Linked DNA regions of Homo sapiens. The protein of the gene in region 1 interacts with the protein of each later gene in a pairwise test. Each region holds a gene or a part of one and is shown on either strand. Other genes may lie near its edges.

Region 1 (3,500 bases):
TTCTCACTTCTTTACCTCATTACTTGTGGCAGCCAAGGGTGAGCACTGGTGAAGATGACCCTGAATACACAGATCTTATGTGCATCCTTTGAGAGGATGGAAAGATGAAGGGTGAGTGGTAGAAACATGAGAGTATTTTTCAAGCAAAAGCTAAGGTGTTTATATGTACTGGTTGTTATTTAGACAGTTTCTCTACCTAGTGTAGCATAAGGAGTAGAGGACACACTTATACACACATATAAACATTCAACATATGCACACACATTTCACATTTCAATATTCCATACTTGGCCATATACTCTGTGCAAAGGATGACCTGGTTTCTTATCAAGTATGTATGTATGCCTGATATACAAGGTTACTTGGTTCATTTTAACTTGGCATAAAAATGTTTTAACTTTGAAAGTTTTCCTTGGTTCATAATATCACAAAGGGATGGGACTTTGAGTCCAAAAATAGGACAGGGATTTTAAGAAATAGAAATGTTAAAAATTCTCCAGTAATGCCCCTGAAAGCTAAACATCCTAGAAACTAACATAAATGTTTAAATTCCAGAAAAAACCATATCAAGCTTGGAACTCCACTTGTTATATTAAATTTAGATATGCTCTTTGTCCTTAGAACCCTTAGCTTTACAGAGTTCTTCAACTAGGTGTGTCATTATATTGAAGGATGTTTTGAGAATTACTCTTGAATTTGGATGAGCCAAGTTTTTAGCCCAATTAGGAATTGCACCTAAGGTTGGTTAGTATCACCATTTATTGAAAAGTTCTACTCCAGTGTCAGTGTGTATTAGTTTGGTTAGAATAATCCATATATCTGCTATTAAACTAATCACCTAATCACTTATTTCTTGCCTTAGGGGAAAGCTATGTCTGTTCCTCAGACAACTTCTTTAAAAAGGTGGAGTACACCAAGAATGTCAATCCCAACTGGTCTGTCAACGTAAAAACATCTGCCAATATGAAAGCCCCCCAGTCCTTGGCTAGCAGCAACAGTGCACAGGCCAGGGAGAACAAGGACTTTGTGCGCCCCAAGCTGGTTACCATCATCCGCAGTGGGGTGAAGCCTCGGAAGGCTGTGCGTGTGCTTCTGAACAAGAAGACAGCCCACTCTTTTGAGCAAGTCCTCACTGATATCACAGAAGCCATCAAACTGGAGACCGGGGTTGTCAAAAAACTCTACACTCTGGATGGAAAACAGGTAGGTACTTTTTCAAAGTACTTTTCCCGTTTTTTCTAAATTCTTAGATGATCATGTTATACCTAAAATATCATTTCTTGTTGACGGACTCTTCCTCCACATCTCATCATCACAACCTGATATTATAGGTTTCATTTGGAGAAAAGGTATTTTTAGCAGGCAAAGCAATGAATCAGGAATCTGAGGCTTTGAAATTCAATCTGCTTCTGATTTACCATGCAGAAAGGTCACTTAGCCTCAGCTTCCTTATCTGCTATGAAAGATGTGTTAGAACCTAGGTTCTATGAATTCTTATGAATATGAATTTAGCTATTATATGATGCAACCTTCATTGTTCAATACATGTGACTGAAAATGATATTTGCCCATTCATTACTTTTTAGATACCCTCACATTGATGCTCAGCATCTATTTTGATAAAAGGAAGTTGAAGTGACCTTCATATGCTCTGAAAGAAGTCAGATACGGGGAAAGCACTGAAGCCTCTGGCTCGTTGTCTTTGCCTCACACTAAACCATATTTATTCTCTTTCTCTTTTCCATATGACATAGCTGTCTTAATTTGGTTCCACTGATGGTTTGTGTGAGAAAGGGACTATTTCAGGATCCTAAAATTAGCCCAAGAAAGATGCTGCCATCTGTTCCCCCTCCAAATCAGGTTCTTCATGTCATTGGTTATACTACTAAAGTGCCACCTATATTAATATCTGGGAAAGAATGCAGCCAGGCGTCTCCATCAGACAGATGCACCATTCTCTTAAGCATAGGGAGCTGTAAATATACAACAAAAATGTTCCAAGGGAATTGGAACAGTGGCTGGTTCTGTTGGCTCTAAAGAGAATTCTGGTCTCCCATCAGAAAAGACAAGTGTGGATTAGTATCAGTCCATATATTCTACCTCTTAAAATGCCTTTGGTGTTTAAACAACTATATAGAAAAGGTATTCCTAAAAGGCGGATTCACTATATATCAAAGTTACTGATGAGTGTTCAAATGCAGACCTGTGCCTCCTCCTATAATTTCTGATAGTAATGTGTGCTCCAAGATTTTAAGTTTCAGGGAAAACTCACCCAGGTACTGTGTACTTTGCAATTTTGAGAAATATTTGGCTTTGTTTCCCATCATTTTGCGATCTGAGAGCTACCTGGACACATTGGTTATACCTGACTTCTGTTTGTTGTACTGAAGCAATGGGTTTGTCTGTGATGTTGGGAAAATCTCCAATTCCCAAGCATTTCTCTAAGAGTGTCTATCTTCTAAGCACCATGTATGTAATAAACAGGAGCTGTCTAAGTATAGGCCTGATTGCCAAAGCCTCATCTCAGAGAAATAGGACATAGAAAGTTTAGAATCATTGGATCACAGAGTTGAGAATGACTTTAGAAGCCATGACATTTAATCTTCCACCTAAGGCATGGATATCCTCTACAATCACTCTATAAGACTATAAGACAGCCTATTTCACTGTTCAACAGCTGTGATTTTTAGAGTTTCTTTATATTAGGCATAAATCTGATTCCCTGTGCCTTCAGCCTTCTGAAGTAATATAGGAATATGCAAATCAAAAACATAAGACTGGGATTAAGAAGATTTGGACTTTAGTCTTGATATTGTCACTTAACCACTTAACTGTCCTGAACCTCACACTCCTTCTCTGTACAAAAGGACTGATCACACCTGCCCTGAGCATGCTCACAGGACTCTTATGAGGATTAAATCAAATAATGGATATGAAAGCACTCTGTAAATTGACACATGGATGTATATATATATATATGCATATAATTCATCATTAAATGAGATTTATGGCAATTTTCATATATTAATAAATGTTAGCTCTCTTTCTCCTACTTTATTTATTTATTTATTTACTTTTGGAGTCAGAGTCTCACTCTGTCACCCAGGCTGGAGTGCAGTGGTGTGAATTTGGCTCACTGCAACCTCTGCCTCCTGAGTTCAAGCAATTCTCCTGCCTCAGCCTCCCAAGTAGCTGGGACTACAGACGCACGCTGCAATACCCGGCTAATTTTTTTGTATTTTAGTAGAAACGGGTTTTCACTGTGTTGCCCGGGATGGTCTTGAACTCCTGAGCTAGGGCAATCCGCCCACCTTGGCCTTCCAAAGTGCTAGGATTATAGGCATGAGCCACCATGCCTAGCCTCTTCCCCCTACTTTATCTCTATCATTCTTATTATAAATTTCCAACATTTGTGAATATATACCATGCCTTGGCATTCTGCTTTTGTTCCAAATAATATATAAAGGGACACCTCCATCTCCTAGGGAAGCAAGCTCCAG
Region 2 (3,500 bases), 3.5 Mb from region 1:
ATGTCTAAAACAAAAATACAAAGCCTTGAATTTATCCCTAGTACATTTTATCTGGTTAGTTCTGCCACTTCATTTCAGCATGCTAAAATCCTTTGGGATACAGATTCTACCTTCAAATATACTTGCTTACCCTCACAGCCTGCCTTCTATTTCTTCCTCTAGTTATTGATAGAAAATTTTGTTAGAACAAGGACAAGGGCAGAGGCCTGAAGCAAAATTTTGGATGGCAATGAGAAACTATTTTACTAGGAATAAGTATTTTTGAAGATTCAGGATCCCAATCCTACCTGCCGGTCTGGCCTGCCACAGTTGACTGAACCTCCGTTCTGAGAGCTACTTTCCTTTGACGTTTTTTCACATTTTCTTTATCCAGAAATTTCATGCTTGTTGGTGAGGATTATTCCCCCTTCACCTTTTCTTTCAACTTTATTTCCTGATTTTTAACTTTCTTCCCACCTCTTCTAAGATTTGAAATGATCACAACCAATGATGTTTCAGATTATGCTGTGAGGTGAATGAGAATTCCAACAGATATTTGAGTGTGTTTGTCTTCTGATTACTTTATTATCTTTCCTCCGTTTGAATTTTGTGTTTTGCATTACAAAAGCATTAGCCGTAAACTCTGCCTAGCCAGGCGGACCATAACATACTACCAGAAAGACATAACTTCTATTTCCCTTCCTTTTCATTCTCATGCAAATACTCTCTACCACACATTTACACTCAGGTTCAGGGATTTCCATATTGTAATTTTTCCCTTTTGAACAAGAGGTATACTTCCACTGACATAATTCAATCATAAGTCCCATCTTACTAAATCTCAGTAATACCTAGAGGATCATATATTTACCTTTTTAAATTTAGAAATGATTTCAAAATCACAGAAAACTTTCCAAGACTAGCACAAAGAACACCCATATATTCTTTACCCAAATTCACCTACTGTTAATATTTGTCCCATTTCCTTTAGCATTTGCTAACATTCCCTGTTCTTTTGGAACCATTTTAGAGCAAATTGCATACATCATGGTCTTTCACCTCTGAATTCTTCAGTGTATATTTCCTAAGAATAAGGAAATTCTCTTACATAACCACAGTATAGTTACCAACTTGAAGAAATTTAACGTTGATGCAATACTTTTATCTAACCACCATTTATATTTCAATTTTTGACATTTGACCAAATAATATTCTTTATGACATATAAAGAACCCAATATTGTCCTTTATAGTTTAGGGTCAGGTATTACATTTAATTGTCGTATCTCTTTTGCCATATCTCTTTTAATCTGGAACATTTCTTCAGCCTTTCTTTGTCTTGAACAACATTGACATTTTTTAAAAAGTGTTCTTTTATGTCTTTATTATACTTCATTATACTGTTCCTTATTTTGATTTTTTCTGAAGTTTTCTCATGATTATATTTAGCAGTACAGTTCTTTCTTAGGGTATAATATCTGGAGACACATGATGTCCACTTGCCCTTCACTGATGATGCTAATTTTGATCACCTAGTCAAGATGTCGTCTGATTTATTCACTGTAGTTGCTACTTTTTCTTTTGCCACTAATAAGGAATCTGTGTGGTATGTTTTAAAACCATAAAAATACCCTGCTGCTTCATCAAACCATCTCATCCCTACCCCCACCCTTGTTTTATTATCAGTTGATGATACTTGCCTGAATCAATCATTAATATGATGATTGCAAAATGATGATTTTTCCAGTTGAGTATTCCCTCCCACATTTTCAAGTTGGCACTTGGCATTCTACTATAAGCAAGAGTTCCACTCCCCATTTCCTCCCATTTGTTTATATATCAGTATGGGCTGATGAATTATCTTTTTTCAATTGTTAATAATTATTTACAGCCCTTACTTGTGTTGGTGTTCAAATTGTCAAGATTTAGCCATTGGGAGCCTTTCAAGGTGATTTCTGGGTCCTTATAATATTCCCCCATCATTTTCTTGAGCACTTCCTTACTTTCTGGCATAACAAAATGTTCTAGGCTCATTTTGACCTTATTCTGTCCCAGCCTTGAAATCAGTCATTATTTTCCAAGAAACCCTGGTTTCTTTTAGTGGGACAATATTAGAGACCAAGACCTGAGTGCTAGATATGCTAGATATAAACACAAATATCCATACATGTAAGCATATGCACACATATATAATAACACATGCATACATACTTTATATATGTGCATATTTATGTGCACATACACAAACATATATATATTTTAGAAATCATGAGTTTACACCAATACCTTAAATTCCAGTCCATCCCCACAGGTTCCTTCCTGCCTTTCTCCATTCTGTATTTGTATGTTCCTTCTTCCACAGTATGAACCCTGGCTCCCAACATCAACACATGTACTCATTTGCTCAATCCCATAATACATCTAAAATAGTTTCTGAATTGCTCTGTCCACGCCACAACAAAAACAAACTGGCTAACAATACTTCAGGATTTGTTTGAGGTTTTCCTCCCACCCCCACTACATTGATGTAATTATGCTGTTCGTCTGAAATGCAGTTGGGTTTGTTTCAGTTTGCCTTCAGCTTTAGTCCCCAATTTTCCCATCTGTATTCATTTAATTTTATTTTTTTGAATTTGTAAAACAATGTGTTTCCCAAAGAGGATGCTATACAAAAAGGTACATTCAGAGAAATGTCATTTCCTCCCACATCCTTTTAATCCTGTTCCTCCACCCCCTACCCCTTGTGGATAACCAACTTCATGAATTTTTTATTTATCTTTCCTGTTTTTATTGTTGTTGCTTTGTAAATCCAAGCAAATATATGGATGTTTTCTTATTTTTCTTTCTCTCAAAAAAGTAGTGTACTGCATATATACTACATATACATATATACTTTTGGAATTTGCTTTTTTCAATTGACAATATTTCCTTGAAATCACTCTATATCAGTTCATAGTGATCTTTTCCTCATTTTTTTCACAGCTGCATAGTACTTCATTGTGAAGTTTGTCTTTGTATTGTTGGGTGTGTATCTGGAGATTATATGTTTTCCTCTTTGTATTAAAATCTTATGTGCAGCTTGTGATTCATACTGTGTATTGGTAACATAGGCAAGGCCTCAAACATTGCTCCTACCCTTTTAATCCATATTGTCTTTTCATTAGAATCACTGGGCACCTCCACCAATTCTTCCTCCTCTTTCTCCTGCATATCTGTTTGCCCTCCATCGTTTCTTTTACTAGTTTTAACTTAGGCTCTTCAACTTCCTCTCAGATTAATTATAAGCCCTTTGATCAGATCTCTTGCAAAACATTCATGACTTATTATTTTCAATTTTCAACCTCACTAAATTTTGTACTAGAGTTGCATAGAAATGACTGAATTCACTGCTTATATTCCTCGCCTTTCCCTTTCTACCCTCTAGTAGAACTGTGGCTAAAAAGTGGTAAACTAACTGAAAAGCAGATAACAGTAGAAAGAAGTCTAAATAATCTGCAGACTAGAATGTTGGTTTTTCTTTTA
Region 3 (2,476 bases), on another chromosome or scaffold:
AATTTGATGTAAGAGTGACCAATTTGATGTGAGAGTAAGTTAGAAGAGTGAATGATGATCCTTAGATTGCTAGGAAAGAGGGCCCAGCGGGTCAGCTGTGTTAGTGTGTGGAGACTAGGGCTAGTGACACCTCCGGGTCAGCTCTGTGCCCAGGAAGCACTTCAACCTGTGTGGCAGGAGGGATAGCAATAGGAAGCACTTCAATTCCCCACAACTCAGACACCCAGACGGGAGGGCAGAGGACCAAGGCTGAAAGGAGTAGAGAGCCTGAGAGAGAGATGAGACTGAGGGGAGCTAGTGGTGACTCAGGCTAACCAGTCAGCGGGAGAGACCTAGACCGGGGGGCAGAGAAGGCGGGAGAACTGGAGAGAGGACCTAGCCTAGGAGGAGAGGGAGCAGGCTGAGAAGGAAATGCTCTGGGTAGGAGAGACAGACTCCAAGGAAAAATCCAACAAGTAGAGGAGGATTTGGGATTGGAAAAGCTGAGGTCCAGCTGGGAGAGCTGAAGAGGGATAGAACAGAAGAGGTTGAGCCATGGGGTTTCAAGTACGCGGAAAGGAGCAAAGATGTTAGGAAAGGGTCGAAAGGGCACATCCCGGAGTCCCAGGTAGCAGGACGAGGATGGCAGGGGAAGAGCCAAGGAAATGAAGCGGAGATGTTGAGTGGCTCCCGCCTTGCCTGGCCTTACCTGTGCGCAGCCAGTTAGCAGCCGCAGCCACAAGCACAGCTACTTCAGGACTGAGGCCAGCAAGCTTTTCCTATAAATGGCCATATAATAAGTATTTTTGGCTTTTTGGGCCATATGGTCTCTGTCTCAACTACTCAATTCTGCCTTTGTAGTTCAAGAGCAGCCATAGATGATACAGCCATTAATGGGTCTGGCTGTGTTCCAATAAAACTTTATTTACAAAAATAGTTGGCAGGCTAGATTTGACCTGTAGGCCACAATTTGCTAGCCTTCCCTCTCCCTGCTCTAGAATAGTAAATACAGGAGTAGGAACAGACTTTTGATAGGGTGTTCCCTATCAGGGCACAGGGAAAATGGTGAACTCAGCTTCATACATACTAAGTTGACAGATTGACTGTGGAACCTTCTGGTAGATTCTTCACAGGCAGTTAGCCTTTGAGTCTGCAGACTGGGAAAAAGACTGGGAAAAAGTTGAGAGAGGGATGGAAGAGTCATTCATGTGGAAGGGAAGTTTGAAGTAGATGTTTTTGTGATGCTCCCAAGGCAAGGCCACCCTGGGAATGAATTAGAGTAAATTTAGGGCCAAGGACTTAACCCAGAGGATCCAGCAGTTAAGGAAGGACCTGTGAATAGAGAAGAAATAACCAGAAAGGTGTGGGGCCTGCCTTTAAAGGAGAGAGACTCATGTCCTGGAAGCTAAGAAAAGGAAGTTTCTAAAAGAACAATGTGGTCATCAATATCAAATAGGTCAGGTAAAACAAGAGCTGAAATATATGCATTGCATTTGAAAGTAAGGCTGCCATTGGTGAACCAAATGACAAGAATTTAGGTGGAATGACAGGGGAGAAGCCTGAGTGTAGTGGGCTGGGGAGTCAATAGATGGTGAGAGTTATAAACAAGAAGTATAGGCTCTTTTTTTCTTTCTTTTTTCTTTCTTTCCTTTCTTTCTAGAAAAGGCAGTAGCTAAAAGGGGATTTAAGGTAAGAAGAAGGGTTTTGTTTTGTTTTGTTTAGGTTTGTTTTTAAAATACTGCTGTTTTTGTTGGAGAGGCTTAAGAATATAAACATGTTCAGAGAAAGGCACTAATGGAGAAGTTGAAGATAGAGAATTGAGATAATAGGTGGAACAGCATTTTGGAGGAGATGGCTGGGAGTTACCTGGAAGCCCAGGAGTTCACTAGACCTGAACAGCAGCTATTTTTTCTTCTTTGCCCTTAGACTGAACAAGAGACCCTTCTGCTGAGTACAGCCTGTCCTCCCACCCAGGAACACCCTCTGCCTAATGACAGGACCTTCCTGGGAAGCATCTTGACAGCAGTGGCAGATGAAGGTTAAAGGCCCTGGGATTTGGGGGTGGGAAAGTTGTGACGCTGCTCCTGATATCTTCTGCTGTTGAAGATGTCCACCAGCGGGCTTGTCTATCTTACCCTGGCTTCCATTATGGTAGACCCCTGCCTGGATCATCAGAGGGGCCCTCTCCCATTATTGGTTTTTCTCTTAGAGCCAGAATCAACTCCTGTGCCCTTGCTTGGAAGTGACAAGAGTGCTTTCACCCGAGTAGCATCAATGGTTTCCCTTCAGCCCGCAGGTTAGGAGGGGCTCCAGGGATCCTGCCTCATTTCTAGAAAATCTGGTGGTGATGAGTAAAGACGAAAGCAGTGAGAAGTGCTTTGCTCTAAAAACCTCAATTCTACTTGGGCTCATTTTATTTCTGCCTTCTGGGATCTGTAATGTTCCAGACATTCAAATCCTGTGGGTGGGGAACACGGATAAGAGTTGTGGAAATGAT
Region 4 (3,500 bases), on another chromosome or scaffold:
GGTGCATATGTGTAGTCCCAACTACTGGGGAGGTTGAGGTGGGAGGATTGGTTGAGCCCAGGAAGTCCAGGCTGCAGTGAGCTATGATGGTACCACTGCACTCCAGCCTGGGCAACAGCGTGAGATCCCCTCTCAAAAAAAAAATTATGAAAATTTTATCTGATTGCTGCTGTTCTTTCTTTCTTTCTTTTTTAAAATTATGGTCAGGTACTTACAATTTCATCAGAAATTCCTAAAAGAATTCGAAGTGCCTTAAAAAATGCAGAAGAATCAAAGCAATTTCTTAATCAGTTTCTGGAGCAGGAAACTCATCTCTTCAGCGCCATTAACAGCCATTTGCTGACTGCGCAACCTTGGATGGACGATCTTGGAACCATGATTAGCCAGATTGAAGAGATCGAACGTCATCTTGCTTACCTTAAATGGATTTCACAAATTGAAGAACTAAGGTAAAATGGGCCTCTTTGTTCTCACAATTACTATTTTCCTTTGAGGCTTCTGTCTTAGAGAGTACATGTGTGCCATTAAATAATTGAGTTAATTAAAGATTATAATAATATAATTTTACCAGTTGTTGTGAAAATAGCATTATGATAATGATTCTTTTCCTTTATTGTGAGTGAACATAAGCTTTTCAGGGAGCTTAATTAGCATTTGAAAGAAGGTAATGTAAGTACGTTAAACTTTTAAGTTTTTTTTTTTTGAGATGGAGTCTCGCTCTGTCGCCCAGCTGGAGTGCAGTGGTGCCATCTCGGCTCACTGCAAGCTACACCTCCCGGGTTCATGCCATTCTCCTGCCTCAGCCTCCCGAGTAGCTGGGACTACAGGCGCCCGCCACCATGCCTGGCTAATTTTTTTTTTTGGTATTTTTAGTAGAGACGGGGTTTCACCATGTTAGCCAGGATGGTCTCGATCTCTTGACCTCACTGTCCGCCAGCCTCGGCCGCTGGAAGTGCTGGGATTACAGGCATGAGCTACCGCGTCCGGCCAAACTTTTAAGTCTTACAGTTGGATTATGAACACATGATAAAAACTATTCTTTGTAATGCCAAATTAATAAAACACAAAGTTTGGTAATAGTTATTCTTATTTAATTTTTAGAACTGGTCAGTTAATGAAATGGATTGCTTTTGTATAATTTGAATATTTTTCAGTGGGAATCATAAGAGCTACACAGTATTCTTGGATGAATAACAAGAGTTCTGCTACCTCTGGGTAGGAAAAACAAAAAAGGAAGTAAGGCTTGACCTTAGTTCTTTTTGAGTTGAATACCTATCACTGGTAGTTAATTGTATCTAGCTTTGCCTTTCAGACAACCCAAAGTAACATTTCCACCTAGATTAGTAGATGATAAGGTCCCCACTATCCTTGCATTGTTTTAACTAGTACTTGCTGCAGAGCTGTCAGCAACCATTAATTTTGCCTGGAAAACCTGAGGGAGAAAAGTCTTCTGGGAGTCTTAATGTCCTGTTTCAAATGTATCATAGTTAATAAACCTGATATTACTTTTGTTATGGATATGTTTTATGTATTTCTTTTTCTTGCATATATTTCCCAAAATTTTAAAGAATTTTACATATCAATATAATATAGAAATCTTTGTTTTTAGGCCAGGTGCAGTGGCTCACACCTGTAATCCCAGCACTTTGGGAGGCCGAGGCGGGCAGATCACGAGGTCAGGAGTTTGAGACCAGCCTGACCAACATGGTGAAACCCCGTCTCTACTAAAAATACAAAAAAAAAAAAGAAATTAGCCAGGCATGGTGGCGCGTGCCTGTAATCCCAGCTACTTGGGAGGCTGAGGCAGGGGAATTGCTTGGACTCGGGAGGCAGAGGTTGCAGTGAGCTGAGGTTGTGCCATTGCACTGCAGCCTAGGCAGCAAGAGCGAAACTCCGTCTCAAAAAAAAAACAAAAAAAACAAAAAAACTTTGTTTTGCATGTATGAGGAGTTTTACATATAAAGTGGTTTAGAACATCTCATTCTTGTTTAGATAAATTATTTGCAGTGAAGGAATTTTAAACCTTGCTTTATTTTACTGCATTTCTCCTTGTCCCTCAGAAAGGAAATATCAGTAAGGGGCAATGTTAATAACTTTATTAAGTAAAATACGTTATTTGAAAACCTCACTCTTGTAGTAGCCAAAGTAATAGATTAACTAAATTAGGTCCATGGTTATTGATAAACTTTTCTTTTTTCTTCTTTTTTTTAACATTTATTTTATTTATTTTAATTTTCTTTTTATTTTTTTTTGAGTTGGAATCTTCCTCTGTTGCCCAGGCTGGAGTGCAGTGGCACAATCTCAGCTCACTGCAACCTCCACCTCCCGGGTTCAAGCGATTCTCCTGCCTTGGCCTCCCGAGTAGCTAGGACTACAGGTGTATGCCACCACGCCCAGCTAATTTTTGTATTTTTAGTAGAGATAGGGTTTCACTATGTTGGCTAGGCTGGTCTTGAACTCCTGACCTCAAGTCATCTGCCTGCCTTGGCCTCCCAAAGTGCTGGGATTACAGGTGTGAGCCACTGCACCTGGCCTTGATAAACTCTTCAGATATCTGAATTGTTTATAAGGGAAATATGCCGAGGGATTTATATTAGAAATAGGGATCAAATTCATAAGCAGGTAGAGCACAGTTATTTTTCTGTCTTTAATAATGTGTTATTTCCCTGAGGTCTTTTATGATAATCTCTCCATTTCCAGCTTTCCTTTAGAGCTTCTGGGATTTTCTTCATCTCTAAATTTTTTTATAATGGCCTATTTTTATTCTGATGTACATTGTCTTTTTTTCAAGTAGTTTCTTCTTGCTAGAATTAGCATCCTTACATTAGCTCTGTTTCTTGGATACTATAGTATAGCACTATCACTCTGAGTGAACCTTGTTTCTCTAGCTTTTCCTATGTTGTAAATGTCATTCATACTTTAGTGTTGTGAGGAAATCTATTTCATTCCTTCCTTAAAAGCAGTACTCCTGCCGGGCATGGTGGCTCATGCCGTAGTCCTAGCACTTTGAGAGGCTGAGGTGGGCAGATCGCTTGAGCTCTGAATTCTGTGACCAGTCTGGGCAACATGGCAAAACCCCATCTCTGTTTAAAAAAAAAAAAATCAGCCAGGCTTGGTGGTGAGCACCCATAGTCCCAGCTACTCGGGAGGCTGAGGTAGGAGGATCGCTTGAGCCCCGAGAGGTTAAGATTGCAATGAGCCGTGATTGTACCACTGCACTGCAGCCTAGGTGACAGAGTGAGACTCTTTTAAAAAAAAAAAAAAGGCAGTACTCATATTCTGTTTGTACATTTGAAATTCTTCTGTAATATTTGTATATATATATATATATTTTTTTTTTTTTGAGATGGAGTCTTACTCTGTTGCTGAGGCTGGAGTGCAGCGGCACCCTGTCAGCTCACTGCAACCTCTGTCTTCTGGGTTCAAGCAATTCTCCTGCCTCAGCCTCCTGAGTAGCTGGGATTACAGGTGCCCATGACCACGCCTGGCTAGTTTTTATA
Region 5 (3,500 bases), about 70 Mb from region 1:
TGCTGATTAAAAACAGAACAATGTTCAAGATGATAAAGTAACCAGGCATGATTAACATAAGAGCTTTCTCAGGGTCAAAGGAAGTTAACCTTCCTTGTGGATTTGGTTCCTTAACCTTTTAAAATGTCTGAACCCTACAGTGCTCTCATTTTTCTGTACATGCTCCATCAGCCAAGCCAAGATTTTAGGCTTAACTTTTTTTTTTTTTTTTTTGAGATGGGAGTTTCGCTCTTGTTGCCCAGGCTGGAGTGCAATGGTGCTATCTCGACTCACCACCACCTCTGCCTCCTGGGTTCAAGAGATTCTCTTGCCTCAGCCTCCTGAGTAGCTGGGATTACAGGCATGCGCCACCACCATACCCGGCTAATTTTGTATTTTTAGTAGAGACAGGGCTTCTCCATGTTGGTCAGGCTGGTCTCAAACTCCTGACCTCAGGTGATCCACCTGCCTCAGCCTTCCAAAGTGTTGGGATTACAGGCATGAGCTACCGCGCCTGGCCAGGCTTTACTTTCTATAGATGAAAATAAGTACGCTGAATGTGTACTTCCTAACTATTCAGTTTGCTTCTATGTACACAGTGAAATGTAAGAAAGAATGCCTGAAATGTTTCTCCAAGTATGGTTCCTGGACCACCAGCAGCATCACTTGGGAACTTGCTAGAAATGTACATTTTCCAGCCCCTTGAAGACCTATGAAATAAGACACTTTAGGGTAGCATCTAGCTCTCTGCTGGAGCAACCCTTCCAGGGAGACTCACGCCTGTGCAAGTTTGAGTACCACTGCCTCACAAGAGCTGATTTAGTCACATTTTGGTTTCAGAAAGAAAAAGTTATCATTTAGAATGTTTCTTCATCTCATTTCTTTTGCTATTTACTAGTTTATTTACTTTAATCACCTATGGAAATCTACCCAAATCCTTTTTTTTCCAGTGATTTTTACCATCACTGAAACCTGTGGCTAAGTAACCAAGGACTTCTTACTTCATTGCCATATCTTAATAATGTTTTTGGAATCCAGGTGAAGATTTTACCTCACCGGAAATGTCACCACAATCCTTTGCACTAAACAATGATCATTTTATGTTGATATAAATTCTCATACAGTTTTATTAACTACTAGCACAAGAAGGACACCTTCTTGACAAGGAAAACCCTACAGTGGTTAAGTTCAAACATGTTACACCATGACCCCCACTCCAAACCATCCCTCTTCTGGATCATGCTCCCAAAGCTAGTCTAGATAATCCTACTTCTTACTTTGTAGTCACAACAAACAATTGAGCCATCCTCTAAAATTAAGCATAAAACCCAGTTCTAGGGGATAAAAGCATAAACTGACTCCTGTTTACCTGTTGATACTGAGATCCAGGTGAATGGGGGTACAATGGGGCATCTTCAGGTGGAGGCGACTCATGTTCATCTGGAGCATCTTGGTCATCTGGCTCCTAATTTTGAATATTTCAAGATAAAAAATTACGTAGGCAAACTCAAGTTTACTTTTAACTTTTTCTATTTGAAATAAATTTTAAAAATCTACAAAACTGACCCATTAGCAACTTTTCTTTTACTGCAGATAAAGAACTTGGGGAAAAAACAAAAAAAAAAAAAACAAAACAAAAAACCTGATTTGCATTCTCTCAGAACTACTACATTTCAGGCAATTTCACAGAAATTTCTCCAAAAGAAAGCTCCCTTCATTAGCTTAAAATGACATAGAATAAACATTCTTTTCTTTTCTTTTTTTGAGATGGAGTTTCACTCTTGTCACCCAAGCTGGAGCCCACTGGCACGATCTCCGCTCACTGCAATCTGTGCCTCCTGGGTTCAAGTCATTCTCCAGCCTCAGCCTCCCAAGTAGCTGAGATTACAGGCGCCTGCCACCACGCCCGACTAATTTTTCTATTTTTAGTGGAGATGGGATTTCACCTTGTTGGCCAGGCTGGTCTTGAACTCCTGACCTCAGGTGATCCGCCTGCCTCGGCCTCCCAAAGTGTTGGGATTACAGGCGTGAGCCACCATGCCCAGCCGAATAAACATTTTTCAAAACCCAAAACTTCAACATAATCTTTTAATAATATCATTAATACATAAACACTGGCCTATAAAATAAAGAATTACTTTGCTCTCTTCCATTTCTATCTGCTGCACACTGGTGGCTTTTTTTACCTCCTCTGGACAGAGTTCACAAGCTTTTGCAAGTGTCATCCTAGCACTATGTGATCTCTCCAAGAAATAACCATTGGACGTTTCATTGCTTTGCACTGGGGGAGACCAATTGTTGTAAGTGTACTGAGGATTGCCAGTATATGGTCTTCTTTCAAGTTCATCTCCAAGCCATTCCACTGCCCAGGTCCACTTTCTTTTAAGATCTCCATTGCCCTGCAAAAGAAAATAAAACCATATAGATAAGAGGATTTGGAATACTTCAAAGTTAACTTAAAATGACAACCCCAAGTTCTCATGATTCTCTTCTTTTAAAACAGAATCCTTAATTCTGATTAAGATTTCTACAAAATTATAAGAAAAAAATCCTCACCTGCAGGATTTGGTAAGCAACAGGACAGTTACTAAATAGAGCTACCATACATTTTATACACTGGTATGCTCTTTTTTGATAGTGATTCTTAGAGCGCTGGATTGTGTCAAACAGCCCATCTCGGTCATCTGGAATTCCTTTCAGTGCATTATGAATTCTGAAAGAGAACCAGATATAAAATAAAAACATCTAAAATCTAATAGCTAATATATACTGAGTGCCTACTATGTGCCACTCAATAATGTCTTTTAGTCATTTAATCTAACATTAGACAATAGGTACTATTATTAAACCTTTATTTTTTATTTATTTATTTTTTTTGAGACGGCCTGGGCTGGAGTGCAGTGGCGCCATCTCGGCTTACTTCAAGTCCTGCCTCCCAGGTTCACGCCTCTCTCCTGCCTCAGCCCAACTACAGGCACGTGCCACCACGCCCAGCTAATTTTTTGTATTTTTAGTAGAGACGGGGTTTCACCGTGTTAGCCAGGATGGTCTCAATCTCCTGACCTCGTGATCCGCCTGCCTCGGCCTCCCAAAGTGCTGGGATTACAGGCATGAGCCACTGCGCCTGGCCTTATTATTAAAACTTTTAACAGGTGAGAAAATTGGCACAGAGTTACACAGCTTGCCGAGGTCATATAGCTGCGGAGCAGTGTGACTCCAGAGTCTGTGCTCTTACTAACTTATTACCAGTCCAAAATAATTCTGCCATATATGTAATTTAAACACATTACCTGAAGTGAATTCAGGACACTCGAGAGTAATGCAAACTTTAAAAAAGTTATAACTAAGTTTATGACTGCTGTAGTTGAGGGTAATTTGCTACACATCAATACCTTTTATAAAACTGCATCTCTGAAGGCAAGTTAGGATTCAGTGACATAATTTGGAGGTACAGTATTTGAATTCTAATAATGAGAATACATGGCAGGCAAAGCATTTTGACAGGCAATAGTACAATTTGG
Region 6 (2,599 bases), on another chromosome or scaffold:
TCTTTCAGCAAAACCTTTCGGAGAAGCCCAATACTAAGCTCCTCTGGTTAGAGCCAGCCATGAGAGAAACTCCAAGTACTTCTGACTGGTTCTCTCTCTACTCATCCACCCCTTAGGTGGCTGCAGAAGGAACTCTGTGCAACCCCCAGAGTTCTCATTCTCAGTGACAGGGAAATGTAATGATTGGCCCTGGATGATTCAGCAGATCAGATGATACTTACTCAGAGCAATTTCCACTCCTTTGCAGTAGCATATTATCAGTATTTTCCAGATAAATAACTTGGCTAAAGAAAAATCCATTTCATTTACATCTTTGGCACCTTACAGCAATAGAACTTTTGTGCAATGATTTTAATATTATATTTCTACATTGGCTGATAAGATACATATGGCTATTGAGCACTCAAAATGTGGGCTAGTGCAACTGAGGAACTGAATTTTTATCTTCTTTTTTTTTTTTTTTTTTTTTGAGATGGAGTCTTGCTCTGTCACCCAGGCTGGAGTGCAGTGGCGCAATCTTGGCTCACTGCAAGCTCTGCCTCCTGGGTTCACGCCATTCTCTTGCCTCAGCCTCCCCAGTAGCTGGGGGTACAGGTGCCTGCCACCACGCCCGGCTATTTTTTTTTATTTTTATTTTTTTTAGTAGAAACGGGGTTTCACTGTGTTAGCCAGGATGTTCTCGATCTCCTGACCTCGTGATCCGCCTGCCTCGGCCTCCCAAAGTGCTGGGATTACAGGGGTGAGCCACCGTGCCTAGCCATTTCATTTTAATTAACTTAAATTTAAATAGCTCCATGTGGTTAGAGGATACTGAATTAGCACAGTCTTAGAGAGTTCCTTCTTGTTCCATGGACTGGACACAATGAAGATTAACAGTAATTAAGGTCACTTCTGGTTTAGATGTGCTTTATCTGAGAGGAAAATTCAGCCAGCAAACATACAAAAAGAAAGCACAGTGTGAAGTTCGGTGTTAAGAGCTAGTTTGCCTGCGTTTGAACCCTGCCTGGCTCTGCCATTTCCTACCACTTAACTGCACTGTGGCTGAGTTTTCTGATCTGTAAGGTGGGAATAATAATGATACCTATCTCATAGGGGAATGAAAGGATCAAATGAGTTCATATTTGTAAAGCAATTTGAAAGAGTGCCTAGCCCACAGTAAGTGCTACATAAGAGTTTGTTAAATGAATCTGCAAAAAAAAAAAAATTACAAAAAGGTACCTAAGGGTCCGGGTGACTATATGCTTCCATCAAGACTAGTGAAGAATGGTTGTTTTTTCCATTCATCCCTACATTTCTTTTTTTAATAATGATAAACATGCAACTTTTTTGTAGCTTTACAACAAATACCCAGATGCTGTGGCCACATGGCTAAACCCTGACCCATCTCAGAAGCAGAATCTCCTAGCCCCACAGGTATTTTTAAACTTCTCATAATTAAACTACAGTGATGAAAGATAGCCACACTCAGGCCATTTGGGCTGCTCAGATGAATCCTGCCTGCCTGCTGGCAAACATGTGCTTAGGACATTGACTGATCTGCCATGTTGGCTTCTCTCTGTGTTAAGCCATCCACAGATGAGGCTGAAAAATAAAAACTGCTTTGGATTAAAAAGGTTAACTTTTGAATAAAAAAGCTAGGCATGTGTGATGCGCACTAACACGTGCCATTCCTTCTTCAGAATGCTGTGTCCTCTGAAGAAACCAATGACTTTAAACAAGAGGTAAGTTCTCATTTTCAATCAGAGGCCCATCATGCCTTGAAGAGATGAAAGAAGGCATTGCCTGGATTCTCTTCTGATGAAATTTCATTAGCAAGTTTTCCAGCTAATTGGCAGTCTAAAACTTGCTCATAAATAAAACATGTATTTACTAAATATCAGAAATACTAGGTTTCCTCGGATAAGTTTAGCATTACAGAAGATGTTTATTAATGCCTGTTATTTGAAACATTAATCTGCTTGCAATTTATTTAAGGTATTTTGTAGATATCTAATATCTAATAAGCATCTAATTAATGCATATCAAAGCTAAGATTTTGCCTTTAGGAAAGTTTTCTTTCCTAATAAAATAGTTTATTTGACAACTATTCTTTTTATTAGGATCATTCATATATTTGCTAAGCAAAGAGTAAATTTATTTTCCTTAAGATTCAATTTGAATATACTAAGAATATTAAAGCAAGTTAGATAAATTACCCAATATATTTGTCAATTTGAAATTTGATAGACATTAGTTGTTTAATTCAATGGGCAGTTTTGAGCTGCAGTTTATACACACATGCATAACAGAGTCACCTTTCAATTATCCATGTTAATAGGAAAGTGGTTATAGATTTTAGTACACACATTAAAATATGGATACTCTTCTCTTTTGATAAATCTCATTTCAAATAAAAAAACCAGTCTCATAATTATGTATCTGTATCTATTACATCATTGAATTTAGTAAATAATGTTTAATATGTATAAGGAAAAACAATGTTATTGACATGAAGATTATACTCACATATTTGGCTTGAAAATATCTATAAAAATAATTTCTGTTGCAAAGTAAGAAATGTTCTTCAGAATGTTATTAATCCCTGTGTTAAAAGAGAAAT

The links.
Region 2: the proteins of DCX (region 1) and MID2 interact in binary tests that used the Homo sapiens proteins (3 or more experiments, as listed by UniProt).
Region 3: the proteins of DCX (region 1) and SPAG5 interact in binary tests that used the Homo sapiens proteins (3 or more experiments, as listed by UniProt).
Region 4: the proteins of DCX (region 1) and RINT1 interact in binary tests that used the Homo sapiens proteins (3 or more experiments, as listed by UniProt).
Region 5: the proteins of DCX (region 1) and USP9X interact in a two-hybrid assay, tested with the Homo sapiens proteins (one study listed by BioGRID).
Region 6: the proteins of DCX (region 1) and SPP1 interact in a two-hybrid assay, tested with the Homo sapiens proteins (one study listed by BioGRID).

What each region holds. Positions count from the first base shown.
Region 1 is NC_000023.11:111,398,693-111,402,192, reverse strand, and holds part of DCX (neuronal migration protein doublecortin), read left to right. Parts: intron 1-862; coding exon 863-1,203; intron 1,204-3,500. UniProt on the Homo sapiens protein: Microtubule-associated protein required for initial steps of neuronal dispersion and cortex lamination during cerebral cortex development. May act by competing with the putative neuronal protein kinase DCLK1 in binding to a target protein.
Region 2 is NC_000023.11:107,919,866-107,923,365, forward strand, and holds part of MID2 (probable E3 ubiquitin-protein ligase MID2), read left to right. Parts: intron 1-3,500. UniProt on the Homo sapiens protein: E3 ubiquitin ligase that plays a role in microtubule stabilization. Mediates the 'Lys-48'-linked polyubiquitination of LRRK2 to drive its localization to microtubules and its proteasomal degradation in neurons.
Region 3 is NC_000017.11:28,579,550-28,582,025, reverse strand, and holds part of SPAG5 (sperm-associated antigen 5), read left to right. Parts: intron 1-1,905; coding exon 1,906-2,017; intron 2,018-2,188; coding exon 2,189-2,275; intron 2,276-2,476. UniProt on the Homo sapiens protein: Essential component of the mitotic spindle required for normal chromosome segregation and progression into anaphase. Required for chromosome alignment, normal timing of sister chromatid segregation, and maintenance of spindle pole architecture.
Region 4 is NC_000007.14:105,542,201-105,545,700, forward strand, and holds part of RINT1 (RAD50-interacting protein 1), read left to right. Parts: intron 1-207; coding exon 208-449; intron 450-3,500. UniProt on the Homo sapiens protein: Involved in regulation of membrane traffic between the Golgi and the endoplasmic reticulum (ER); the function is proposed to depend on its association in the NRZ complex which is believed to play a role in SNARE assembly at the ER.
Region 5 is NC_000023.11:41,228,445-41,231,944, reverse strand, and holds part of USP9X (ubiquitin carboxyl-terminal hydrolase 9X), read right to left. Parts: intron 2,693-3,500; coding exon 2,536-2,692; intron 2,379-2,535; coding exon 2,166-2,378; coding exon of another isoform or gene 2,118-2,165; intron 1,445-2,117; coding exon 1,349-1,444; intron 1-1,348.
Region 6 is NC_000004.12:87,978,714-87,981,312, forward strand, and holds part of SPP1 (osteopontin isoform OPN-a precursor), read left to right. Parts: intron 1-1,332; coding exon 1,333-1,413; intron 1,414-1,679; coding exon 1,680-1,721; intron 1,722-2,599. UniProt on the Homo sapiens protein: Major non-collagenous bone protein that binds tightly to hydroxyapatite. Appears to form an integral part of the mineralized matrix. Probably important to cell-matrix interaction.